4 linked regions of the Homo sapiens genome follow. The protein of the gene in region 3 interacts with the protein of the main gene of each other region in a pairwise test. Each region holds a gene or a part of one and is shown on either strand. Other genes may lie near its edges. The genes, in order: CSTF2, MAPK1IP1L, SS18L1 and NAF1.

Evidence for each region.
Region 1: the proteins of SS18L1 (region 3) and CSTF2 interact in binary tests that used the Homo sapiens proteins (3 or more experiments, as listed by UniProt).
Region 2: the proteins of SS18L1 (region 3) and MAPK1IP1L interact in binary tests that used the Homo sapiens proteins (3 or more experiments, as listed by UniProt).
Region 4: the proteins of SS18L1 (region 3) and NAF1 interact in binary tests that used the Homo sapiens proteins (3 or more experiments, as listed by UniProt).

What each region holds. Positions count from the first base shown.
Region 1 is NC_000023.11:100,837,391-100,842,053, reverse strand, and holds the end of CSTF2 (cleavage stimulation factor subunit 2), read right to left. Parts: coding exon 4,605-4,663; intron 3,816-4,604; coding exon 3,693-3,815; 3' UTR 3,690-3,692; intron 1,341-3,689; 3' UTR 534-1,340; downstream 1-533. UniProt on the Homo sapiens protein: One of the multiple factors required for polyadenylation and 3'-end cleavage of mammalian pre-mRNAs. This subunit is directly involved in the binding to pre-mRNAs.
Region 2 is NC_000014.9:55,047,012-55,054,648, reverse strand, and holds the start of MAPK1IP1L (MAPK-interacting and spindle-stabilizing protein-like), read right to left. Parts: upstream 3,003-7,637; 5' UTR 2,846-3,002; intron 1-2,845.
Region 3 is NC_000020.11:62,174,742-62,181,774, forward strand, and holds part of SS18L1 (calcium-responsive transactivator), read left to right. Parts: exon of another isoform or gene 1-1,577; intron 1,578-4,440; coding exon 4,441-4,467; 3' UTR 4,468-7,033. UniProt on the Homo sapiens protein: Transcriptional activator which is required for calcium-dependent dendritic growth and branching in cortical neurons. Recruits CREB-binding protein (CREBBP) to nuclear bodies.
Region 4 is NC_000004.12:163,135,890-163,142,922, forward strand, and holds part of NAF1 (H/ACA ribonucleoprotein complex non-core subunit NAF1), read right to left. Parts: intron 4,495-7,033; coding exon 4,334-4,494; intron 1,362-4,333; coding exon 1,310-1,361; intron 1-1,309. UniProt on the Homo sapiens protein: RNA-binding protein required for the maturation of box H/ACA snoRNPs complex and ribosome biogenesis.

The sequences.
Region 1 (4,663 bases), on a different chromosome or scaffold from region 3:
TTTGCATTCTTTTGCTTGACATGTAAGCAATATGCTATTACATTCTCTAAGCCTATGCCAGGCTTTTAATTCACCTGACCATAATCCTAACCCAGGGGATAGAATTCCAAGAATATAAATTGGCTCAAAAGTAGTTCCAGTAGAACTTTACTGATTATTAAGGCAACTCTTAACCTCTTGAGGTTGGCCTGATAGAGAGAAACCATGTTCCTCCTTAATGCCACTACGAGAGAGATGGGGTTGGGGTGGGGGGAGAGGAGGAGGCGGCGGCGCGGCGAGAGAGAGAAATACTAGGCAATAAGACCCATAGATTAGAGCTAATGGCACTAATTATGTTCATACCTATCCGCAAGGAAGCAGGCAGGAGCAGACCTAATGAGCAATCTGACTGTGCTCTACATTTGGTCCACTTAAAATGAGAAGAATGTACAAGTTTTAGGGTTTTCTGTGTTGTAAGTTCCCAGAATAAACGTAGTTACAGGGTAGGGCTGCAGGTTAGGGACTGCCTGGAAGATAGGATGAAATGTATTTTGTTCATTTGATTTCTGTTTTTATTTCATCTTGAGCATGTGAAAAATCAGTGGCTTTTTAAACTTTCAAAGTTGACTGCCTAGACTGATAAGTTTAAGAACACACAAGTAAATGTCAACAGTCTCTTGTGTTGCTGACACACTCAAACCAGTGCTAAAACAATTTTTGTCTTAACTCTGAATTATACATGTTCAGACCTGCTATTGAAACAAATGCATTTTGATATTTGGATTTTTCTAAACTAAACACACAGCTGTGCTAGGCTCTTTGCTCTGTTAGCCTTCTGACCATTTTATAGCTCTAAGCATGTGATATTTTCTCCTAGAAGACTCCGAAGTGCTAGAATATTTTCAGAGGGCAAAGCCTTATAATAATTCTTACTGGAAGCAAACTAAACAAAAACCAAGTTCCAGAAAACATTGCTTCTGAGAAATTCTCAAATATCATCAAGAAGAATAAGTGGTTAACTTAAAAACAAAACTATGGCAATATGTTAAAGTACAATACTGCAGTAAGGGTAGAAAACACATCTAAGGTTTCACCCTTAGTGTTAAGCTTTTTAAAAGCAAAAAGGTCATGTGTATCAATTTGCAGTGTACTAAAATTGTGTTCAAAGTTTATTTCAAGTCACAGAAAATATACAAACTAAGACAATAAAATGAAGTGATTTTGTTCTGAGAGAAGGTGATGGGAGTCCTCCACCTGGCACTGATTTGAGTCATTCAAGGGTTAGGATGCAGGTCATCTTTTTTCAATATTTCAACAAAATTATAGAATTTCCAGATTTCTTGCCAGGTATTTTTGAAAACCTGTAAGAAGAAGTTAGGACAAAGCCATTAGAAGTGAAGACAAAGCTCTCTTCCGGAAAAACTTCAGGAAAAAAAATAAAAAGGCTAGGGGAGGGAGGACAGGCATATAATCAAATCACCAGGACAGATTTGCAAAGTATCTGTCTCCTGCCTCCTGACTCCTCAAAGCAATCAGCCCTTGCAGCAGGGTTTCTCAACCTCAGCACTACTGACATTTTGGGCTGGAGTACTAGTTGCTATTGGGAAGTGGGTGAGGGGGACCATCCTGTGCATTATGGGATGTTTAGCAGTATCTCTGGCCTCTACCCACTGAATGCCAGTAGCATGCCATACTCCCTAAAGTTGTGATGACCAAAAACGTCTCAAGACAATGTCACCTAGGGGGCAAAACTGCCCTTGTTTGAGAACCATTCATCTCTAATGACAACAGTATAGAAGCCTGTCCATGATGGCAGAGATGGATCACAACTAGCTAGGTATAGGATGGAGGAAAACCCAACACTTTAGCCATGGTATGCACAAACACCAGTAGACACACAATAAAATCTTGCCCACATAAAATTGCATAGAACCACACATACATATACACAAATCATGATAGTTTTTTTAAAATGGTGAAAACTGAGTTTGCAGTCAAGTTAACAGTAATGTGCCAATGTCAATTTCTTGGTTTTGCACTACACTGGGTGAAGGGTACATGAGACTCCTTGTACTATTTTTCCAACTTTCCTTGAGTCTATGATTATTTAAAAATAAAAGGTAAAAAAATAGACAAAAACTTTGCCTTGTGGTTAATATGCAAGGCCTTAAATTAAACATCCTATAAGCAAAACTATAATGAAAGAAATTTCAGAAACATTTCTACCTCTACTATCCAGAAACAGTAAGGAGTAATTTTCTCACATTGTAGGGAATGCCTTCTCTGGCTTAAGTAAATTAGTAAAAGAAATAATTTTTATTTATTCCTCTGAATGTAATAGGTAGTCTATACTTTTACTAAAAAAAAAGAATATGTGGGGTTTGTGGAATAAAACGTTAAGGTACCAAAAGTCTACTGAGCCTTCTATCTATGATAGCTTCTCATTAATTCATTTAAGGTCTAAATACATATATGATGCATAGTCGCAGTTTAAATGTTTAAAGACATCACAAGTATGGATTAAAATGATATATTTTGTAAGAGTGGTAATTATTAATAGTTAAATGAGTTCACTATTATATAACATAAGAATAGGAATTATAATATGGATGGGGTAAAAAGTAGAAATTTAAATTGTGCTGTCCTACCTGATAGTGGGGCAACATGAATTTTAAACTGTTTTTAGAAAAAAGAACTGTTTATAAAATACAAAATGCTGGGGAAATTTTTTTTAAAAAAGAAACACTGATACATGTATGTGTAATCAAGTTGTCACATGATTATTTATGAAGCAGGTTACCTGGATCCTTTTTTTTTTTTTTTTTTGACACAGAGTCTCACTCTGTGACCCAGGCTAGAGTGCAGTGGCATAATCATGGCTTACTGCAGCCCTGACCTCCTGGACTCAACCAGTCCTCCCACCTCGGCCTCACAAGTAGCTGGAACTATAGGCGCATCTCACCATGCCTGGCTAATTTTTTAAAAAATTTTTGTAAAGATGGGGTCTCACTATGTTGCTTAGGCTGGTCTTGAACTCCTGGTCTCAAGTAATCCTTCCACCTCAGCCTGCCAAAGCTGAGATTACAGGGCTCAGCCACTGTGCTTGGCCCCTGGATTCTTTCTGCCTAAATGATGAGCAAGAAAAATAAGGGTAGCAGGGTACAGCGATCTCCAAAATATATAGAAACTGATGGTGATGACGGACATTTACTACCTTAAATTATGTGCTACTATAGTTCAACATCAAAATATTCCCTATAAAATAAATACAAGAAACAAAATATTTACACATTTTATTGAAATGCTTTGTATTTTTCCATTTTGACAGGACAGTTTGGAATAAAATAATACAATTGATTGTAGAAGGATACACACCAAACTATATTTAGAGGTTTTGTCTGGGGAATGAGATTGAGGAAACAGGGCTTTTTACCTTTCACCTTCTACATTTCTGTATATGATTACTTTTGTTAAACTGATCATACATTACCTTTGTCATTAGGAAAGATTATAAGCAATTCAACAACTGAACAAACATTGTATAGCCTTACTCTATCCCTACAGGAGCTGACCTACTGAAGGGTAAAGAAGAGTCTAGCTGAGTGGATTGAGGGCCGCTGAGAGAACAATCTTGTTGGTTAAGGTTAAAAGTATATACCCAGAATAGACAAGGAGCTAGTCCTACTCAGATGGGGATTAAGTTTGCTCACCTATCAAGGTGCTCCAGTGGATTTCTGTATTTGTTCCTTTAAAATCAGGATACTCTGCCTTTGCTCAGGAGGCAACATGGCAATCTGGTCTGCAGTCAGTTGTAGAACCTGCATAATCAAAGCAGCCTGTGCAGAGGAAAAAAAAAAGGTAGTGAGTTTTAATGATGGCAGCTAAAAAATACAAAACAAAACAAAAAACCCACCACCAGCTTCTGTCCAAAAAGCTACTGTAGTGGGATATGAAGCAAAATGGAAAAAGGAAGAACATTTCACACAGAAAAAAACCAACAGCCCCCCTCCAAAAAAAATAAAAAATAAAAAAAAACTGGTGAGAAAAGGTACAATGAAAAGAACAAGTATAAATTAAAATACCTAAGATTAGACGATTCAAAACAGACAACTTCATGAACTCAAAGTTCCTGGAGACTAAGATGGTATCTGTGAGCCCTGGAAATCCTTCAAGTTTTAATCCTGTTTTGAAAGTCTCTCTTTTTCACAAATTTTAGCCTTTCCATCAGACATAAGCTCCCCACAATGGTCAAATATAAAAACAGAAAGATATAATCATGGGGAATCTACTATTGTTTTTAGGGATAAAGTAGAAAGGGAAGGAAAAAGGGTGTGGATTTTCAGGTCAATCTGGCCTGAACAAGAAAAACCTGCTATTGGCAGATGAGTGTGAAATATAAAATAAGCTGCCATTTACATCCACTTAAGAACTTCACATCCATTAGGAACTTCAGGACCAGACTCACAAATTTTCAGGTAACAAGATCATAAAAGAGTTCTAAGTTAGAATAAACATCACCTCCAAAGGGACTTTGAAGACCCAGGATCGTCACATGGTAACTGTGAAAAGAGGAATCAAAAAGGCTAGAATTGTGCATAAGGAGGCAGTCAGACAGTGTTGCTTACCTTCTCATGATCCTGTGGAGTGACTTGGTTCTGCCCGGGACTAAAGCCGCCAGGCTGGC
Region 2 (7,637 bases), on a different chromosome or scaffold from region 3:
AAAAAACTTCTCAATAAGAGACCATTTTCCATCTGTAGAAGTTATAATTCCTGCCCACTGCACAGAAAATAGTAACACACTTAATCTATAAAGTGCTATATACATGTTAGATATTTGTTAGGCGAAATTAAGCGAAATCAAAATTTTTGGGTTGATTTGTTTAGTATGGGGGGATGATATGTATCGTACTGAAAATATAAATTAATGGCCGGGTGCGGCGGCTCAAGCCTGTAATCGCAGCACTTTGGGAGGCCGAGGTGGGTGGATTACTTGAGGCCAGGAATTCAAGACCAGCCTGGCCAATGGTAAAACCCTATCTCAACTAAAAATACAGAAAATTAGCTGGGCGTGGTGGAAGGCACCTGTAATCCCAGCTACTTCGCTTCGATAGGCTGAGGCAGGAGAATCGCTGGAACCTGGGAGGCGGAGCTTACAGTAAGCGACTCCGTCTCCAAAAAAAAAAAAAAAAAAGAAAATATAAATTATAAATTAGAATACATGCTAGTTTTTAGTATTGGCTCATTTATCTGCTTATGTTCCATTTTTTACATTTGGGCAACTCAAAAACGGGGGTTTTGAAATGCTCAAAAATCTGAATCTTTTTGAGTGCCACCATGCCGCTCAAAGGAAATGCTCATTAGAGCATTCTGGATTTTGGATGCTCAACTGGTGTAATGTAAAAAAAATCCAAAATCTGAAACACTTCTGGTCCCAAGCATTTGGGATAAAGGATATGCAACCTGCAATATTTCTTGGCATTTAGTTATATACTTATTGGAACATATATGCCAAACAATGTGTTGGCCTTTAGAGAAATTATAGTATTACATGGAGATTCCTGAGATGTGCTGTCTTTTGCAGTCCATAAGGACCATAAGGAAAGAGCCGGGAGTAGAGGGCGGTGAAATGGGCCCTAGGGAAAGAAGAGCAGTTAGTGTAAAAACTGGGAGAATCTCTGGGGAGGTATAAGCAGTTCAGATGGGTTAGAATATAGCGAGAAAGGGAAGGGTTGTATTAAAGTCTTAGCAGAGTGACCTTAGACGAGGGTTTGAATTATTTCACTAAAAGTCGGCTCATCTGAATGAACCCGAACTATAAAGAACAGGCCATACTATTTGTAAAAAGCACGCAGTTTAAAAAACAAAACAAATAAAAACCAGGCCAGTAATGTTGCGAGGAACTAAATGGGACTCTGTCCAATCAAGTGCCTAAAAAAATAGTGCTTGGGTGGAAAACAAATACCAAATTCTCTTTTCTTTGTATGTGGACATCTAGCTTATAGGTAAAAAAGTAAACGTTAAAGTATGATTATCTAGCTATAACTGCAGCTCTTCACTGGTTGGTTCGGCCAGAGTTGACAAGTCCAACTCTCCAAACTTGAGGCAAAGGAAGATCGGAATCGTACCCACATCATAGATTTGCTGTAAAACTTTTAATAAACAAATCTCTTAGTCGCTGCCTGGAATATAGCAAAACCTCAACAAATATTAGCTTTTATGATGCCTACTTTTAGGTCCATAAATCTTTATCTGCCCTAGTTTGGCACAAAACTTACATGGTGGCAAAATGTGACCTGAAGCTATTTATAGTTTCTATTCGCCCCCACTTAGAATGAATGTTCACATCTATTGCTGCAAATATTAATGTTGGATTATGGGGTGCCCCACTCTGCTGGGGGTGTTATCTCTCGTCTAACATGACTTTCTAAAAAGATGAAGATAAAATCCAAGTATTTTTGAATTCAAAACACACTAGCTTCAAAAGTTTCAGTTAAGAGACTGGGGATGGATTTTACCCATTCCGCCTGGAGTGAGGAAAAGAACATTCCAATATTTGCAATTCACTCCAAGTTTCTGAAGCAAACTCGCTTTGCATTGTGGGCTCAGAGATGCCAGCATGAAAAATTTCTATTCTTCCCCCAAAGAACACCAGTGAACAAAGAACTTATGAAATGTTTCTGAAGGCTACCTTTGCCTGTAATGAGGGTTCCTTTTCGAAACAGACCTTTACAACCCCCAGGTGTGTATTTCTCTAGTAGTAAAACTAAAAAAAATTCTTGCGGTCGAGTGAGCCTGGCTTCATGCTTTAACACTGGAATCTTTACCTATTAAAAGCTGTACTCTTGCTTTTCAAGGTAAAGAGGAAAACGGTCCAGCTATGCATACGCTATCGCAGGTATGTGCTCCTCAGTCCTAAAAAAGGAGATCACTGAATTCTGCCCTTCTCGTGGTTTGCCCTGGGTATTCATCTAATGTATCCGTGAGCAATTCCTCTAGTAAGTCATAACCAGAACGTTGTCACACTGCGGATTAACAAGCGCCCGAGACTCTTGTAAGAATCTTTTCAGGCCTTTCCCTTTTTATTAAAAATTAATGAATGAGTGTAATAGGGTGGGGGTAGAGGGGAAATCGGGGCCAAGGGGCGCGAGGCCGGCAGCCGTTTAGGGACGCACGAACAAAGGGAGTCCGGGATCAACCGGAGCGAACCGGCCTCCTAGCGGGTCGCGCCCGCCGGGAAGGGGTGGGGGAGGGGCCGGCCCGCGCCCGCCCCGCCCCGCAGCCAGACCTGACGTCAGGCGCCCAGAAACCCGTCGGGCGCGACGTCAGCGGCCTCCGACACCTTCTCCCTGGGGGGCGATCCCCAGGCAGCCCGCAGCGTGGAGGAAGGCGACCGATAGAAACGCTTAGTCCTGGTGCCAGGCAGGCGACCACGGCCCGAGCACTGGACGTGACTCGATGCACCTCGGTCACCGCGCCCGCTTCCCGCTTGGCCGCGCCCGCGGGCTCCGCAACCCCAGCTCCCCGATTCCCCTTCACGACTCCCACTAGTACCGAAGCAGCCTCACCCGGCAATATCCGAGACCGCAGTAGGGTCTAGAAGCGGCGATGGGTCCGAGGGACTGGGCCCTGAAGACGCGGGCGCAGCCTGACTGACGGCAGCTAGAGCAGCGGCGGCAACAGCACCAGCAGCGCGCGGCTCCTCCTGGCGCCGGAACAGGAAGCGCCGAGCGCACCGCCTCCGCCCGTTCTCCCCCTCCCCTCAGGCCGCGCCGCGTGCGCCTCCCGCAGGCCCCTGGCGGTACTGCGGCCCGCCAGGCCTAGGGGGATGGGCTCCACCTGGCGCCGGCTCCGGGCCGCTTTCCCCTGGTGGGCGGGCTAAAAGCTCCCAGAGTTTCCGGAGTTCCGAGGACTCGGAGGAAACGCCAGTGGCTGCCGATGTTCACGGCTTCCCGGCGGAAATTGCTAACTTGTCTTGAGTTGCTTGAGGGCTGATTCTGGATTCCTTTTGCTCAGCGGTTTTTACAGCTAGGCCTCGAAGGAGGCTGGGTATGGACGCGGTCTGATTTCGGCCTGACCCGAGGACTCAGATCCTCGGGCCAAAAGTGGGGAGAGGGAAAATATTAATACAGGAAAGGGAAGACGTTTGCAAATAGCTTGACAAATTGATATTTGCTTTCTTTGTAGATTTTTCCTCATCAATGCCTCTTCTCCCATGTTCTTTTTTGTTGTTTTTGAGACAGGGCCTCTGTCACACACGCTGGAGTGCAGTGGCGCGATCTCGGCTCACTGCAACCTCTGCCTGCTGGTCTCAAGCAATCCTCCCATCTTAGCCTCCGAGTAGCTGAGACTGCAGGCATGTGCCACCACATCCGGCTTATTTTTGTGTTTTTGATAGAGATGGGGTCTCACCCTGCTAGCCTCAAGCGATCTGCCCGCTTCGGCCTCCCAAAGAGCTGGTATTACAGGTGTGAGCCACCGTGCCCAGCCGCCATCTTCATTTCTGAATAAACATTACCTCCTGTGTCAGGCACAGATGACATGACCCCAGTCAAGGAACCTACTAACTAGCAATAAAGATGTCGTGATAATTATATGGTGTGCAAAATATATACATATATGCAATATACTTTTTTTTTTTTTTTGAGACGGAGTCTTGCTCTGTCGCCAGGCTGGAGTGCAGTGGCGCGGTGCGATCTCGGCTCACTGCAACCTCCGCCTCCCGGGTTCAAGCGATTCTCCTGCCTCAGCCTCCCAAGTAGCCGGAACTACAGGCGCGCGCTACCTTGCCCAGCTAATTTTTGTATTTAGAGACGAGGTTTCACCACGTTGGCCAGGATGGTCTCGATCTCTTGATCTTGTGATCCGCCCTCCTCGGCAAAGTGCTGGGATTACAGGCGTGAGCCACTGTGCCCGGCCAATATACATTTTTTAAGATATAAAAATATCCTAAAAGTATGTGGTACACTTGCATCTTGCTTTGTGTAAGGCATTAGTGAGTGAGTGGGTGGCCATTTAACCATGAACTTGTTTAAAGGAAGACATCCCTGGATGTTTTCCACAGCACACACAATTCTCACACTGAAAAAGGGGCAACAGAGGAACTTCAAATACCTAAGCCGAGAGTCTTATTTTTGGGTAAGGGCACACAGGCCTATGGAAAATTACACGACTGGTGTGGACCTAGCCTGTTCTCACTGGTGACAGTGAATCAGCAGTGCCTTGAGCCATGCTGAAACCTGAAGCAACAAGAAATCAGTAATCTGGTCAGGTTTGATTTGAAATTTGGTATCTTGCTCATCATAGGCTTTTTTGCATCAATTCAGATATTACAATATTGTACCAAAACATTGTCTTCCTTAGTCGTATAGTCAAATATTTGTCCCTAAGTGCCTCACCATACCCTAGTCCTGGCGCTGTGTACCAGTAATGGATAGCCTCCAACTTTTCCTTGCCTGCAATCAGCCAGTAGCTGAGCACGTTGGAGGGGTCTAGATCTAGGCCATTCCTGTCCCTGTGGGCTTCTCTACAGGCAACCTTTGCTTGGGAACCAAGTCCTCATCTAGCAGTCTCAAGATGCACTGAAGTCCGAAGCTCCCCTACCCAATCCTTCCTTCTAGGTGTCAGACTTTCTGTGTGGTATGAAGAATTCCCCACCTTCTGCTCCCTTCTCTATCTTTCTAGGTGTTTCACTCCAAATAAATCTCTTGCACCTCTAATCACATTTTGGCACCTGCTTCTGGAAGTCCCAAACACAAAAAAACTAAAAGGAGTGTATTATAAATTAGAAAATATGTAAGAATATGGGTTTCTCTATCTTTTTCAGATTCTAAGTTGAATGTGTGAAGTAAAGACTATGTTTTTAAAATAAAACACAAAGCCTTTGGATTTTACATAGGAAGTTTTAATTAAGTAGAAATGAAAATTTATCCAGATCAATTTATTTGAACTTACATCCAAGAAGAAACATTCAACTTAAGGATTAGAAATAAAAGTGGCAATTGTCTACTTCTTTTGTGGTAAGGAATAGATCATACAAGCCTGACTGATGAGAGTAATAGCTTTGTGAAAACTGTATATTCGAGTACATGTGAACTCATACTTGGCTTATACAGAATTTATCCAATTCTAGCAAAGTCAGCATAATTTAAATAAACCTCCTTGAGTTTTACACCATGGCTCTCAAGTCTGAAAGCTTAGATTTGATTATAACCATGGCAAAAGTGATTATCTTTATTTTCTGAAAACGTAATCAACTTTTAAAATAAGTTAAGCAAACATCAGTTTTACACAGACCATATGAAGGGTAGGAGGAAACTGCAATTGTTCCTCTAATTGCAGAGCCTAAACCATAAATTCAAATTGTACTGCTATCTCTACTGTTAAAACAAGTCAAGAAAGTCTTTTACAGTCTAAGAGAAGTGAATGTAATTATGCAGCATCCACTACAAAGATATTTTGAAAACCTATCATCATGTTAGTACTCAATGGCTGTACAGCAATTATTTTAAAGTACGCTCCCAGGGTCACCTCTTGCTGAAGAATTAACTCCAGGAAGTCGAGTTACAAGTATCACCTACATTTTATAGGAAATAAAGGCAAAGATTTAGGACTGAGTCATCTGTTCAAAATTAGAAAGTAAATAAAAAAATAGACTTTGGTTTTATTTGAAAATCCCTTTCTATTGGGTTATATCCATTAATCTACATTTCAACTTCCAAGCCAATCTATTTTAAAAAGTTACCTCCATTTTGTGTCCAATATCTTACTGTATTAGAATAGTACAGGTAGACTCTTGCACTGCTCATTTCTAGTAGGCCATTAATAAAGAAAAGAAAAACCTTTGTGCTTTCTGTTCTTTCCTTAAATTACAAATGTAAAACTGACTTTTTTCCCCCAAAGTAGAAACAGTAGTTTGCTTGACGAAAAATCTTTTATTCACTTGGGCATTACATTACCTAACATTACACAGGCTATTTTGCTTTTAAACATTGTTTTCCTTGTGTTGTCTCCAGGAATCTCTTATAATTTTGTCTATTTTCCTGTGAAATTTGCTTTACCAAAATGAATGCGTAAGCTGTTTATTGGATTCTGACAATAGCTAAAAGCGACAAGAAATATTTTAATGAAAAGTAAGCGTGAGTTAGATCTTGGCCGGGCACAGTGGCTCATGCCTGTAATCCCAGCACTTTGGGAGGCTGAGGCGGGTGGTCACCTGAGGTCAGGAGTTCGAGACCAGCCTGGCCAATGTAGTGAAACACCATCGCTACTAAAAATACAAAAATTAGCTGGGCGTGGTGGCACACGCCTGTCATCTCAGCTACTTGGGAGCTGAGGTAGGAGAATTGCTGGAACCTGGAAGGCAGAGGTTGCAGTGAACCGAGATTGCGCCATTGCACTCCAGCCTGGGCTGACAACAGCGAGACTCTGTCTCAAAAAAAAAGAGATCTCAAGGTTTTTGTTTCATAGGAAGGAAGCTCTCTATTGCGTGGATCTATAAAATGATCCAAACTTCAGAGACAGGAAGCTGATAACTGGATTTATCTTCTTAATGGCTTTGGCTCATGAATAAATGATAATGGTTTATGTGTTTTTCTTATAAAAAGAAATGGAATTTGTATACCGATAGGAGTCCTACTTGCCACATTTGTTCTACTTATTAAGGGATTTCTAATTACTGAGACATTCTTTATATTATTTATAATAAGAAGTCAAAACTTTAACTGAAAGCCATTCTTTGACCACAGTTGGCCATTAGCTGAAATTCAGGAAATAGCACAGGTTTGATCACCAAATCAATAAATCTAGCCACAGGCTGACTAAAAGCTTCCTTTAATCTTCTTCCTATTAGGTCTTCCTTTAAATTAAACCATTCCCTTCATGAATTATTTAAGTGAATGGCATGGTTATAGAAAGATCACATATAACTCTATACAAAAATGCTAAAGGAACCTTAAAAAGTCCATTCAGCATACTTCAGGAATTATACTATGAATCAAGATGCTGTAGGCTTAGAAAAAAATGGGAGTGGGAGTATGTCCTGTAAAGCTTCAGAGAAAAATAGAAAAGTCAAGTTTATTTCCTGATTAGCCCAGGATGATTCCCAAAGCGCAGTTAAGTGTCTGGTCCAGACTAGCTATTAGCGATTAAGTAGTTTCTTTTCACTGTCAAGGCTTTTCCCTGAGGTAATGCCTAAATTCCTAATTTTAATATTTGATCTTATTTCTCTTAGCTCCATCCTCTCTCACCAATAAGCTCTCCACATTTCCACCATGCTAAATGCTTTCTCAACTCTGGAATTTACACTGTTCAAATCTTCCCTTTGTTCAACAGTTATAAAATTTTAGACAAATTTATACA
Region 3 (7,033 bases):
CTAACTGGCTTCCAGGGTTCCTTCCAGAACGTTAAGTCTCTGAGCCTGTAAGGTTTTGCAGAATTGCCTCTGTGTATACGCTCACCTCAGTCATCCAGCTGGCTTTTCATACCCTAAGCTCACCGTTAGATCTGCACGCCTGGTTCTCACATTCATTCACTCTGCCAGTGTTTGTCACGTACTGGGTACGCGTCCGGTCTCTGCTGAGTGCTTGGTGTGTGGCCGCGACACGAACCCTGCACTTTTAGAGCTTATGTCTCGCTACAGAGACATAAGGTGGTCCCACAGGGCCAGACTGTGCTGAGGACAGAGCGGGGGGCCCCAAATGGAGCCCGCCTTCCAGATGGGGGCGCAGGCGACCGCATTTGGCCCGTGTGGGCAATTCCAGGACGAAGACACAGCGGGGAGTGGCTGGCAGCCCCAGGCTCAGCCTAGGGAGGGGGAAGCCCTTTCTGCCCAGGAACAGTGAGCAGGGCTTTGAAGGAGCTGAGGAAAGAGCAGCTTGGAAGATGGAAGAGCGGGAGCTCTCGGGACAGTGAGGAGGCCGGTGTGGCGGGAGGTGACAGGGACAGGTGGGCGTAGGGGCCTCCATAAAGCAGACATCGCTTTCCCTCTGAGTGGGATGGGGCCCCTGGAGGAGGACAGGGTCTGTGTGGTGGGAGCACTGCAGGAGCGAGGGCCTCCTAGAGGAGAATGAGCCAGGCAAGGGAAGAGGGCGTGCCAAGGTCCTGAGGCACCAGGAGGTTTGTCCCAGTGAAGGCAGCCTGAAGGAGGCTCGGTGGCTGGAGCACAGGGCATATGAAGGAGAATGGTCTGGGACATTTTTTGGAGCCTCCTTTGAGAGAGTCCTTAGCAGGAAGTGGCTCTGTGTTGGTGACTCTGAGGTGGCTGGAGGTGTTAGGGACACTTTACACTGCCAGTGAAATTTCAAAGCACTACATCGCTCAAGTTTGTTTTTCTCAGGGAATTGGGTAGGTAAGAGGCCAAAGACTGTTTTTTAAATGCTTCTCGTCCTCCTTCTTCAAGAGGGCAAAGGGTCACCAGGTAGATGTAGAGAAGCCTAAAGACCATGTAACACAGTCTCCCTGCCAGGGCACCGTACTCGGCCATGCCTGGGAAGGGCACGCTGATGAGGCATTTACACAGATGTCAGGAGGGCTCTGGTGTGCTCTCAGGACACTGTGAGGCCACTGTAGCCGACGCAGGGGCCGCCTCTCCCCAGTGTGTGCTGGGCGCTGGTCAGCGGGGAGCAGGCCCCAGCTTGGCCCTCCAGGTTTGCACAGGAGTGTCATGCTGGAGTCTGGAAGGACAGCAGTCTGCATCCTGATGTTAAATTAGAATTATATGTGAATGATTCTGATGAGACGCCATACCTCCTTCATACAGTCCTGAAAATAACTTATTTGGATTTTGTGAAATAAGTGAATGTCCTAACTTAATTATAAGACTGAACCAGAGGACATATAACTTTATACCTACCTATGAAAAGACCGTGACCGGTCGTGGTGGCCCATGCCTGTAATCCCAGCACTTTGGGAGGCCAAGGCAGGAGGATCACTAGAGCCCAGGAGTTTGAGACCAGCCAGGGTAACATAGCAAGACCTGTCTCTACAAAAAATAAAGTAGTCAGGCATGGTGGTGCATGCCTGTAATCCCAGCTACTTGGAAGGCTGAGGCACGAGGATCCCTTGAGCCCAGGAGGTCGAGGCTGTAGTGAGTCGTGATTGCACCATTACACTCCAGCCTGGGCTACAGAGAGCGAGACTTTGTCTTAAAAAAAGGAAAAAGAAAGGCCAGGCGTGGGGGCTTACACCTGTAATTCCAGCACTTTGGGAGGCTGAGGCGGGTAGATCACCTGCAGTCAGGAGTTGGAGAGCAGCCTGGCCAACATGGTGAAACCCCATCTCTGCTAAAAATACAAAAATTAGCCGGGTGCCTGTAAGCCCAGCTATTGGGGAAGCTGAGGTGGGAGAATCGCTTGAACCGGGAAGGCAGAGGTGAGTTGAGATCACGCCACTGCACCCCAGCCTGGGCGACAGAGAGACTCCATCTCAAAAAAAAGAAAAAGACACAGAGCAATGGGGAAGATAGAGAATAGAATTTCACATCTGGGGGGAAATGTGTCCATCTAACTGCAAAATATTAAGATAGCCTTTAGTCAGCATCCAGTGTAGCTGGCCGTGGCGCTTTGGCACAGCACTGCCGGCGCTGGGCGTCTCCTAGGGGCCATTGTGCACACTGTGTTATGTTTGCAGCACCCCTGGCCTCCACCACGATGCCAGTAGCACCCCCATTGCCCAGTCTGACAATTTAAAATGACTCCAGACATTGTCAGATGCCCCAGGGGCAAAACTGTCTCCGTTTGAGAACCACTGGGCTACACTTAAACATGTGCTGAGGCGGCCAGGCGCTGTGGCTCACGCCTATAGCACTTTGGAAAGCAGAGGCGGGCGGGAGCAGATAGAGACGGAGGTTGCAGTGAGCTGAGATCGCGCCATTGTATTCCAGCATGGGCAACAAGAGCGAAACTCTGTCTCAAAAAAAAAAAAAAGGTGCTGAGGCATTGGGGCTGCCAGTGGTTTTATAGGGCTCCAGGGCTGCCATGCCTTCAGCTGAGCAGCTCTGGATTTGAGGCTTTCCGTCTTACCCAATGGTGCAGGAGCAGAAAGACATCAGAACAGACTCCCACTAACTAGAATCATCACAGGCAGCTCTGGGAATGAGAATGTGACGTGTTCGGTCAGGCTGGAACAGCTTTCCTCCCTCCCCCACTTCCTCGCTGGGGGCATTCGGGAAATCTGATCATTAACTAGCTGGGGACACATGGAGAACAGGCATGCAGATGATGATCCGTTGTCTTCCCCTGTGGCAGTCTCCCGAGTGGCTTTCACCACAGGTCCGATGCTCCGTTTTGCTGCCCAAGGAATTCTGCCTTGTGGCCTTGTGGGGCACAGGCTCTCTAGTTTCTCTTCTTCATGTTGTTTTTTGTTGTTGTTTTTGAGATGGAGTCTTGCTCTGTTGCCCAGGCTGGAGTGCAGTGGCACGATCTCGCTCACTGCAGCCTCTGCCTCTCGGGTTCTAGCAATTCTCCTGCCTCAGCATCCGGAGTAGCTGGGATTACAAGCACGTACTATCACACCTGGCTAATTTTTGTATTTTTAGTAGAGACAGGGTTTCGCCATGTTGGCCAGGGTGGTCTCGAGCTCCTGACCTCAGGTGATCCTTCCAAAGTGCTGGGACTGTAATCCTACAGGCATGAGCCACTGTGCCTGGCCTTTTTTTTTTTTTTTTTTTTTAAGACAGGGTCTCACTCTGTCGCCCAGGCTGGAGTGCATTGGCAGGAACATGGCTCACCGCAGCCTCAACCTCCGGGGCATGCGCCACAACATGTGGCTTATTCTTTTTTTTTTTTTTTTTTTTTTTGAGACAAGGTCTCACTCTGTCACCCACACTGGAATACAGTGGCATGATCTCGGTTCACTGCAACCTCCACCTCTCAGGCCCAGTGATTCTCCTGCCTCAGCCTCCCAAGTAGCTGGGATTACAGGCACGTGCCACTACCACCTGGCTAATTTTTTTTTTTGTATTTTTAGTAGAGATGGGGTTTCACCATGTTGGCCAGGCTGGTCTTGAACTCCTGACCTCAAATGATCCACCCACCTCGGCCTCCCAAAGTGCTGGGATTGCAGGCGTGAGCCACTGTGCCTGGCCGAGGCTAATTTTTTCTCTTTTTTTGTAGAGATGGGGTCTTGCTGTACTGCCCAGGCTGGTCTCAAACTCCTGGGCTCAAGCAGTCCTCCTGCCTCGGCCTCCCAAATTCAGATTTGTTTTTGAAACAGGGTCTCACCCAGACTAGAGTGCAGTGGTGCAATCACGGCTCACTGCAGCCTTGACCTCCTGGGCTCAAGCGATCCTCCCACCTCACCCTCCAAGTATCTGGGACTATTGGCACACGCCACCACACCCAGCTAATATTTGGATTTTTGTAGAGATGGAGTCTGGCCATGTTGCCCAGCCTGGGTCTTTAGATTTTTTTTTATAGATTGAAACCCATCACCCTGGTCGTCCCCGCTCCCATTTTCTTACTGTAGCAGGCTCGGGGGCAGATGGTGTTTGCATTGGCTCCCAGTGGGGCCAGCTTGGAGGAGAGCCTTCCTGCATAGCAGGCCCAGCATAAGGCTCTGATGCCAGGCCTGGCACAGGCCCGGCCGCAGCGATGCCAGTGTGTGACTGAACAAATGAACCTTTGGCCCTGTCTACGTTGTTAGCCCCAGGCTTGGCCAGTGGCTTCTGGAAAGTCGTTCGCTGCCCCGCAGAGATGTGAGCAGAGGTTGTTTGCTTGCTGTTGTCCCTCCTACCCCCTGTCCGGGCTGGGGTGGACGTCTGTCTTCCTTTCACTCATTACTATAGGGGTGTAATCTGTGTCTTGATCTCTTTTAGGGCCAGTATGGAAATTACCAGCAGTAAGGGACACACATTCTGGCTGGAGCCCTTGTGGTAGCGTGTTCATCCAGGGGCCGGATGGGCTGGCGGCAGCTCTGGTGAATTGTGACATGTTGGTTACCTGTTCGCCCAGTGCCACGTCTGCATGTGAAGCGTGCTCATTTCATGCTGGGTATGACGCCGAGCGCACACCACTGGCGTGAGACAGCGCTTGGTGGTGTGATACTTTTGGTGCTGTGTATAGTATTGTATGTCGGTACACGGAGAGGTATCCTTTTTTTGTCCCCCGCCCCCTTCTCAATGTTTCTAGCTAGCTTTGGGGGTCATTTTGTCATCAGAGCATTCTGTGCCCAGGGACAGGACAGATCTCGAGGACACCACAGTCCACCTGTTCCCGTCAACAGACGTTAGGTCTCATTTTCCTCCTCATGCAGTGTTGTAGTGTGGGTTGTCAACTTTTCTTTAACTGGCTACGCCACAGCTGGACACACATGCAGCCCCTGGAGGGCAGCCTCTTCCTGTGCCTCGATGGGGTGGGTGGGAGGGCATCTTCTGTGCGTTGGGTCAGTTTCTGTTACGTAACGAAAAGGATAAACATCTCCCACGGGAGAGGCCACAGATGGCCACTTCCAGAGCTTGCCCATTGCCTGTCTCTCGCCAATTCCGTTTATCCAAAAAGGTACATGTTTTTGTATTAAAAAGTAAACAGGGATCAGTGACTGTATTCCAAATAAATATGAATCCCTAAGGGCCGTGGACAAATTGCCTAACCCAGGGCCAGCGGTATTGCTGAAGGAAAGGGGCAGCTCTCTGGGAAGTGGGCCCTCAGAGATTACTCTGGCTTTGACCCTTGTTTAGCTGATGGTCATTTCTGGGATTGGAATATTTAATAAGCCCAATTCTAAGTTGATAGGTAATTTTAAATATTCAAACCAAATCTTCCCAACAGTTGGCAAGTTGTTTATTTTATATTATTTCTTCCAGGACCTACTTGCTCAGATCTCCAAGCAAGCATTTCTTTTCTTTTAGGGATGTCTGAAAGTCACATCCAGTTACATTACTGTGTTCTTTCTAATGAAAAGTAAAGGTTTTATATAGAGAAACTTGAGTAATTTTTACATTTCTAAGACATTAAATCCCATTTAAATTCTGTGTGAACATTAAAGACAGCACACTTGCAAAAGTATGGTCAAAGGAAAAAAATCCCACATTTCAATTAACAAGTAGCATGGACATTTGATCAACCTTTAGTTGGAATAATAATATTCATATTTGCTATGAATCCTTTTAAAAAAATCTTTGGATAAATGCTGACAGATTTCCAAGAACTACCAAGAAAATACAAGAGATATCCAATGCTTGATATATGAGGCCTAGTAATAACGATATTTCTCTTTAATTGATGTTTTGTTTTAAAAGTTAAAAGTAATTCTTGGCGTGGTGGTTCACGCCTGTAATCCCAGCACTTTGGGAGGCCGAAGCGGGCGGATCACCTGAGGTCGGGAGTTCGAGACCAGCCTGACCAACATGGAGAAACCCCGTCCCTACTAAAAATACAAAATTAGCCAGGTATGGTGGTGCATACCTGTAATCCCAGCTACTCGGGAACCTGAGGCAGGAGAATGGCTTGAACCCAGGAGACAGAGGTTGTGGTGGGGCAAGATCGCACCATTGCACCCGAGCCTAGGCAACAAGAGTGAAATTCCGTCTCAAAAAAATAAATAAATAAATAAATAAATAAGTTAAAATTAATTCTTTATCCAGAGTCGGGTGCTTTAGAATTTATAAGTCACTTATGTGTTTTGCTTGAATTAATTCTGACAGCCCCTATGAGGAAATCTGGAGGCAGGTAACAGTTCCCATTTTAGAGATGAAGAACTGAGGCACAGATTAAAGGACTTGCCTGTGTTGAATACCAGTCCTGTTCTAGGACATTCTCCCCTCTCCTAGGAGACGGATGTCACGCACAAATGGGGAGAGAAGTGTTTATTTTGTAGGCACTAAGGGTTTCTAAAACCCTTAACACTGGTAAGGGCTCAAAAATAAACGTATGTGTTCATATTCGATCACCGAAATGAGAGTTCTTAATTGCTAATTGACAAACGCGTTAGCAATTTCAGTTAGGGAGTCATCTCCCTTGATTGTGTTCTTTTCCTGTCAATTTTCATAGACCTAATTTGCAAACTCAATCGGGGACTAAAATTTCCCACTGAAAATGTTAAACATTTTAGATAACTGTGAAGATAGTTTATTTTTATTCCTTGCCAATCTGGGAATATGCCTTTTTTGTGTGTTTGTGTGTTTTTTTAAGTGCTGTATTAATAATACTTTCTGAAAGAAAAGGACACTTACCCCAAAACTTCAATCTGAAATGTCTTACATTAAGAATATCTTGAATGTTGTGTATATATTTTAAAAAGCACTTTGCAAAATAGTTTGTACATTTATTTCCTAATTTATACATGATTTTTGGTGTTAATATATTTAATGATTAATAACAGAATGTTTATTTAATGTGCTGTCCATTTTTATGTAATATTATGGGGAAAGTGATGCCAGCAGTTCCTTTTCATTATTCTATCTTCTGTCA
Region 4 (7,033 bases), on a different chromosome or scaffold from region 3:
ATAAGATGCTATAGATACTCTAAAACTTAATTCAGAACATTAAGTGAATATTCAGAGCCTTAACTGAAATCACATAAATACATAACATTAATTAGAAAACATAATTCCATTTCAATTCAGATACTAAGCAAGGATCATTCACTGGTTAAGTGATTCATACCTGTATAGAACCCTCCAAGTGGGCATAAACCTGATTCATACCTCAGTAAAATTAGAAACACAGATCATGATTTACGATTGCTTTAAACATCTAAAATGGCCAAGGTTAAATCGGTAAGTATCAAAAATCTGTAATACTGGCTGGGCAAGGGGCTCATGCCTGTAATCCCAGCACTTTGGGGAGCCAAGGCAGAAGCTTGCTTGAGGGCTGGAGAATCACTTGAGGCCAAGAGCTTGAGACCAGCCTGGGCAACACACTGAGACCCCCATGTCTATATTTGTTAAAAAAAAAAAAAACAAAAAAAAAACTGTAATACTGAGAAAACTTCATAAGAACTGCTGAGCAAGCTTTAAAAACTCTCATGTATAATTTTTACTTATAAAAATATTTATATACATTTTTATTTTATACTGTATAAATACATGCTATTTTTAAGAAATGAATATATTCATTGTTGTAATTCAAAAAAAAAACCCCTCAAGATAATCTGCTTAAACACTTTCATGGAATGTTAACCAAGTAATCCTATTAAATCATTAACTTATTTACATATTATTCCTAAATTTACTTCACATCTCTAGGAAGACTAGATTATCAAGTCACCTTGGGGCATAAAACTATTGTTTTGCTGACATAGATACAAAAAGAAAATCAAGGTCTCTTTTTAGAAAGGTAGTTATATCGTAAAAAGTAGAGAGGTAGGTAGCTTCCAATGATCTTGTGCTTCCAATGATTCTGTACTTCCAAAAGAAGGACAGCTATTAAAAGCACCATGTCTTCATGTCCCATATGGTGTATTTACTAAACTCAATTAAATTTTTAAAAAATAATGACAGCCTGCCTTTATCAGACATCAACAAAGTTGACAAAAATAGTAAACTACAATGTAAATGATAAGGTGATAATTATTAAAATACAACTAAATGTAACTGAAAAAAGTTTTTTTCCTAAATGATCAATCAAAACCTTTCACTGAAAGGTATGAAATAGTCATCTAGGACGGTGAGAGAATACATGCGCTAGGACAGGATAAGGCAGTATGGCTGCTAGCCAGTATTAATGACTTCCCTAACAGCAAGAATGATAAAATTTATAAGATTAAGTCCTGCCCTACTTTATAAAATGTTGCATAAAAAGACTTATACTTACCTCTGGTGGTGGTTCCTGATCATTCTTCCATGATGCATCTGATCCCTTATCCCTGAGTGGGGTGGGGATGGGAGTCAAAAAAGTATTCATCACAATTCTATTAAGTGCTCATAACTTAAAAGTACAGAAAATAATAAAGTAAAGGACATGAGTTCAACCTTTAATTTTGCAATACAGTTATGTGTCTTTTACCTTATTTCAAAAGATGTGGGAAGCTCCTAAGAAAAACACAAAAGTTGAGCAAGTAGAAATATTAGGATTAGGGAACTGGAATGAGAAGCCAAGGCTATGGTGTGCAGTGGAAAGCAGATGGACAGCTCTTTTGATTTTTGTTTTCATAATATTTGCAGTTTTCACAAAACTCAGTTTAAAAAAAATGCTTATTTCACGCCAACTGTAGATCAGAAGTTGTTCCATGTGCGAAGGACATAAAAATGACTATGAGGCATTCCCTTTTCACAGATTTTACAGGTTTAATGGCAGAGATATCAATATGAATTATTTTCTCCTCAGTTTACCTGAGGAATGTCAGCAATCCTCTATGAGTAACCAAGGCTTATTCCAACACTGATTCTCAAAGCAGTGAGGGTCAAACAAAGGCTAACTATGAATAGTTGGAGGAAGAGGAAGAGAAGCTGCTTTAAAGATTCTGAAGGACAATATAATGACTGGCATGTGTGAAATGTGTAATTGCAGCTGAAAATCAACAACTTTTGGTGGAGAGTTTTACACTTTACATCCAACAAAAGTACAGATATCTATTATGAGCAGTATAATTTGTGAAAGCTCATTTTTAATCTTTTTAATTTTGTTAATTTCATAGTTTCAGCTACTATTTTGTTATTCCATTATGTTAAAATATCACAAAGTAAAATATTACAAAGTATTAGGACTAGATGTCCTTATTGTTTTAAACTAGATCTCAAAAATAAATGAGATTCCCAGGAATTAAGGCCATTAAAATCAATGTACAGATGTCAGTTTGCTGGCACAACATGAAAGTTATTAAGTTTGCTTTAAATTTTTGATTCGGAACTTTGACATTATATATGAGCCATTATCAATGGCTTTTCCATCACTTAAAAGAAAAAAGCATTTCCTCAATTGTCATTTCACACATGGGCCTTAAATATATCTCTGGTATTCCTTTCTGCACATATGACATCTCATGATCTGGACTGCTGTTAGCCTGGAATCACAGACATAAATGGGAAAAATTCCCCAACTAGTGCGTCTATTACAAAAAATCAAAATCTACTAAAGGAAAGATCAAGCAACATTTCAAAAGGCACTTTTAACAAGACAGTAAGTACATGAGAAACTAAGATCAAAATAGCCTCATTAGAGAACAGTAAGCTGGAAAGGAGCTGAACTTCTCTACCTCAAAGACAAAGTACTCCACCAAGTTCCCATGACAGATGCCAAAATGAGGTCTAGAATACAACAGTTTTCCTGGGAGAGGGAGGTTTCTGCAATATAGGTCTAATTTCCCAATTCACTGATTTACTACTGCTTCTTAATAGAAGAACTGCAAATCAAAACCAAAGACTGAGTCTATTATCTAAAATCTATTTAAAAACCATCTTCAGAAAACCTCTTCAAATTTATCTGTTTTAAGCTAAAATACTCTATTTGTTAAAAAGCTAAATATATGGCATATCCACAGCAGTATCTTTATATTCAAAGCAGGATGAAATGCTAAATATTTAAAGCATTTTAGAACATATTAATATCTTGAAGACTTTATGTGTATTTAATTCATCTTTCTTGTCAGTGTTATTTAAGAAAATAACCTTATGCAATGTGAAGAATAACTTAGGCAAAATATTCCTCCAGATCTTTATGTAGATTCTTAAACATGAGTTAAATCAATTATCAGGATCAAAATTTTCATCTCTGAAATAAATGAAATTTGGTGACTTGAGACTTGATTTAACATGTAAGTGGTATAAGTAATCTTCTTATGCCATGCAACTGGGGTTGGTACCTTTGACATAATACCAAAGTTACTCAGTGACCAAAGTTCCTTTGTTTTCCTGCAAAAACAACATCTATAAAAATGTATCGCCTAGGTTTTAAGTCTCCAATAAAAGAAGAGCTAGAACTAAAAGGAACTTCTGTGTCAAACTGAGTGCAAAGTCTTTCTGGATTTAACCTTCCCCCAGTCTTTGGCAGTCTTTTCTTCCACTCCCAATTTGAAAATATTTTTAGTGGCTCATATTCATTACATCATTCGAAAGCATTCAAGTTATTTTTATTAAAAAAAAATCTTAAATTCATATGCTATTTGCTGATATAAAAAATTAAATAACATAATTATAACAAGTTTAGCTGATACAAACAGCTCTACAACTAACAGCTGGCAACAGCTAACATTTGAAAAATATTCAACCAATGGGAGCACAAATATAAAAAAATATTGCGGTCACATGCCACAGAAATCACTTAGCATTATTGATAGACAAAATGGAGAGCACTGGTTTGTTGGTTAGGTCAACTCCATACACCGTAACTTTCTACACAATTTTTCAGGGACACGTGTTAGTTGTCTCTTCTACAAACTTAAAATTTATAAGCAAAATAAAGAGATAACACTCATTTTTTTTCTCTTGAAAACTATTTTAAAGTTTTATTGAAGAGCAAGGCCCCTAAATAGAATCCAAAGAGAATTTTACTTAACTGAAAAAAAAGTTATTAAGAAATGATAATAATATTAGTACTAATACTAAAATAGTAAGTACATTAAAGAATGTACATAATGGAAAAAACACTGAACTAGAATCAGAAAGTGTACATGGCTCAAATGTGCTCTTAATGGCTGATCATCTCATTTTTTACAAAAGATATGAATTCTACGTACAAAATCTGAAAATAAATTGTAGGCTTCAAAGATATTATTAGGAAGATAAATGAACTCTTTGCAAGACACACACAATATAACTGTAAGAAATTACATCACTGAGAATTATTCTTAAAATATAAACGTTAGGTAAGTGAAGAACAACATGCCGGTAAAGTACTTACTGTTTTAGTTTTTCTGTGAATATATATTGAGTGAAATCTTTCATTGATGGAGCAAAATACATAGTCTCCTTTATTTTAATACCTTTACTCTCAATGTGATCTGAAGAATTAAACCGTAACACATAAAATGGATGTGCAACAGGTCCAAATATCTCGAATATCTGTAATAGAAACATAAAGGCCTCTTTTAACATGTAAAATAACTATTTGAAAAGTCAGCAGTGTTTTCTTTTAAAAATCCCACTGATAATTGCCAGAACAAGGTAATTTTGTCAGTGTTAGGGCAATAAAATAATTTTTTAGTTATATTTATGTCATTTTTACATATTCAGTCTTCATATATTGATTAAAATGCACTCGCTCATTCCAGATTTCCCTTCTATGAATGTGAAACAATAGTAACAAGTTTGTTCCTCACCAAATTCAAATCATTTTGATGGTACCAACTCGATGCAAATTATGATTTTTTTAAATTATTGCTCATTTAACTTGTAAAGTACACAGAAAAGGATTATAATTGGTAACTTTTGAGAAAACTGTATACATTTGGAATCATCAGATGGGAAATATAAAAGCAAGCTTCTGACTTCAATAGGAGTTAAATCACTTTTGCTGTTTCCACAGTGTTAGGAATTTTGTAAAATTACAGACTTTTTCTAATTTAACAACTAATAAAGTAGAAGTTATTTATGTTTAAAAAACACAAAGATGGTGCAGCCTTTAACATTTAACTAAAAGAACTGCTTTTAGCAGAACCACATATTTTACTTCTGAAAACGTTTTAAGAATAATGAAAGGAAACTTCTTGGTTTCAAATTGTACTTTCTTCTCAAAATACGTGAATTAAAAAATATATTTTCTGGCTGGGCGCAGTGGCTCACGCCTGTAATCCCAGCACTTTAGGAGGTGAGGCGGGCGGATCACCTGAGGTCAGGGGTTCAAGACCAGCCTGGCCAACATAGTGAAACTCTGTCTCTACTAAAAATACAAAAATTAGCCGGGTGTGGTGGCAGGCACCTGTAATCCCAGCCACTCAGGGGCTGAGGCAAGAGAATCACTTCAACCCAGGAGGCAGAGGTTGCAGTGAACCGAGATTGTGCCATCGCACTACAGCCTGGGGGACAAAAGCGAGATAATATATGTATATTATAGAGATAAGACCATGATCAATGCCAGTATAGATTTTTCCAGTCTTTTTTCTATAATACGTTATTTTTTTCTTTAAGACCATACTGTAGTTTTGTATACTGCCCCCTTTTAAAAACCTAAAGTTGTTCCATGTTATATTCTTTGTAAGTATAATTTTAGCTATCATAAAACACCCCTTTACAGACTCAGGACAACTTACTTAACTTCTTTCTTATTGTAGGACATTTAGGCAGCTTCCAATTTGTTCAACATAATACATGATGCCATGATAAACATATATAAATCACTATACTTCAGACTTCCTAAAAATTGATTTGTAAGGAGTGGAGGTATTGAAGCTGAAAGTACGATAATTAACACTAAGGCATAAAAGTTTTAATGGAAATTACTAAATAGCTTTCTAAATAGCTTGGACCAATTTATACCAACTGCATTGAACATGGCTGTTTTATCACATCCTCAGTTCTTGATTTTTGATAGTAAATGCTCTTCACATTTTATGATTTCAGTACAGCACTGAATCTTTCATTAATTTTCATTAAGGCGTAAAACAGCTCACCTATCAGGGCACCACCATTCTGAAGATATGTGTACTCTAAAAAGAAGTAGTGACATTAAAAACTATTAAAATGCCAATGTATTATGAAATAACACTAATAGCATCACAAATTTAAAGCTTTAAAAAAGTGTAAAAGCAAAAAACTTTAAGAAAATAGCAAGACATCTGCTTTGAAAAGGTTTAGATAAATCCAGTAGACCTCGTCCAGTAAGAACTGTGAAGGACAGAAGAGGTGCACTCAGCACCACTCTTACTGGCCTACATGACATATATTATTGTAGTCTTACTTTCACTTAAAATTGTCTTAAAAACAATTCACAAGTTTAATTCTCTCACATATACACAAACCCAATTCTTCATTTGGTCAGAGATTTAAAAATATCTTTTAAGTTTCCTGTGTATCCATTAATACAAGGTAAAATAATCATCGTTTGCAACCTGGTACACAGACTGTTTCCCAGGGATTTGTTTCCTAGATAGCATGAATCCATTTCCTAAGTGTGAAAAACAATTTCAGTGGAAAAATTCCTTGCCAACTTCAGGTCTGTGCAGTATGGTTTGAACTAAAATATAAGTGACATTCAAAATTCTTGGACAAAAGCAAAGCATAGTATTTTAGTTGACTGTTCCTAGGTTCTGAAGTGTTTATGAGCCACAACTATAATGAAATCATTATAAAGTTTTAAGTAAAACAACATCACAGGCAGTAGATAACAGGAAGCCATACAATAGACAGTATGTGGCATGAGCCAATACTAATAGGTATGTTACAGGAAAACTTGACCAAGTTCACATAAGCAATTTGGCTAATCCAGAGTAGAAAAGAGGAATTTAACAATATTTTAAATAACCATTAGCCTCTGAGTGTAGAGTTTAGATTGACTAACACCTGAGAGCTAAACTGTAAAGAGCAACTTAAGACACAGCAAGGCTCAGGCCGGCCCACTTCTCCTCATACAGCTCCATAGGAGGCACCCATATCCCTTCTTGGT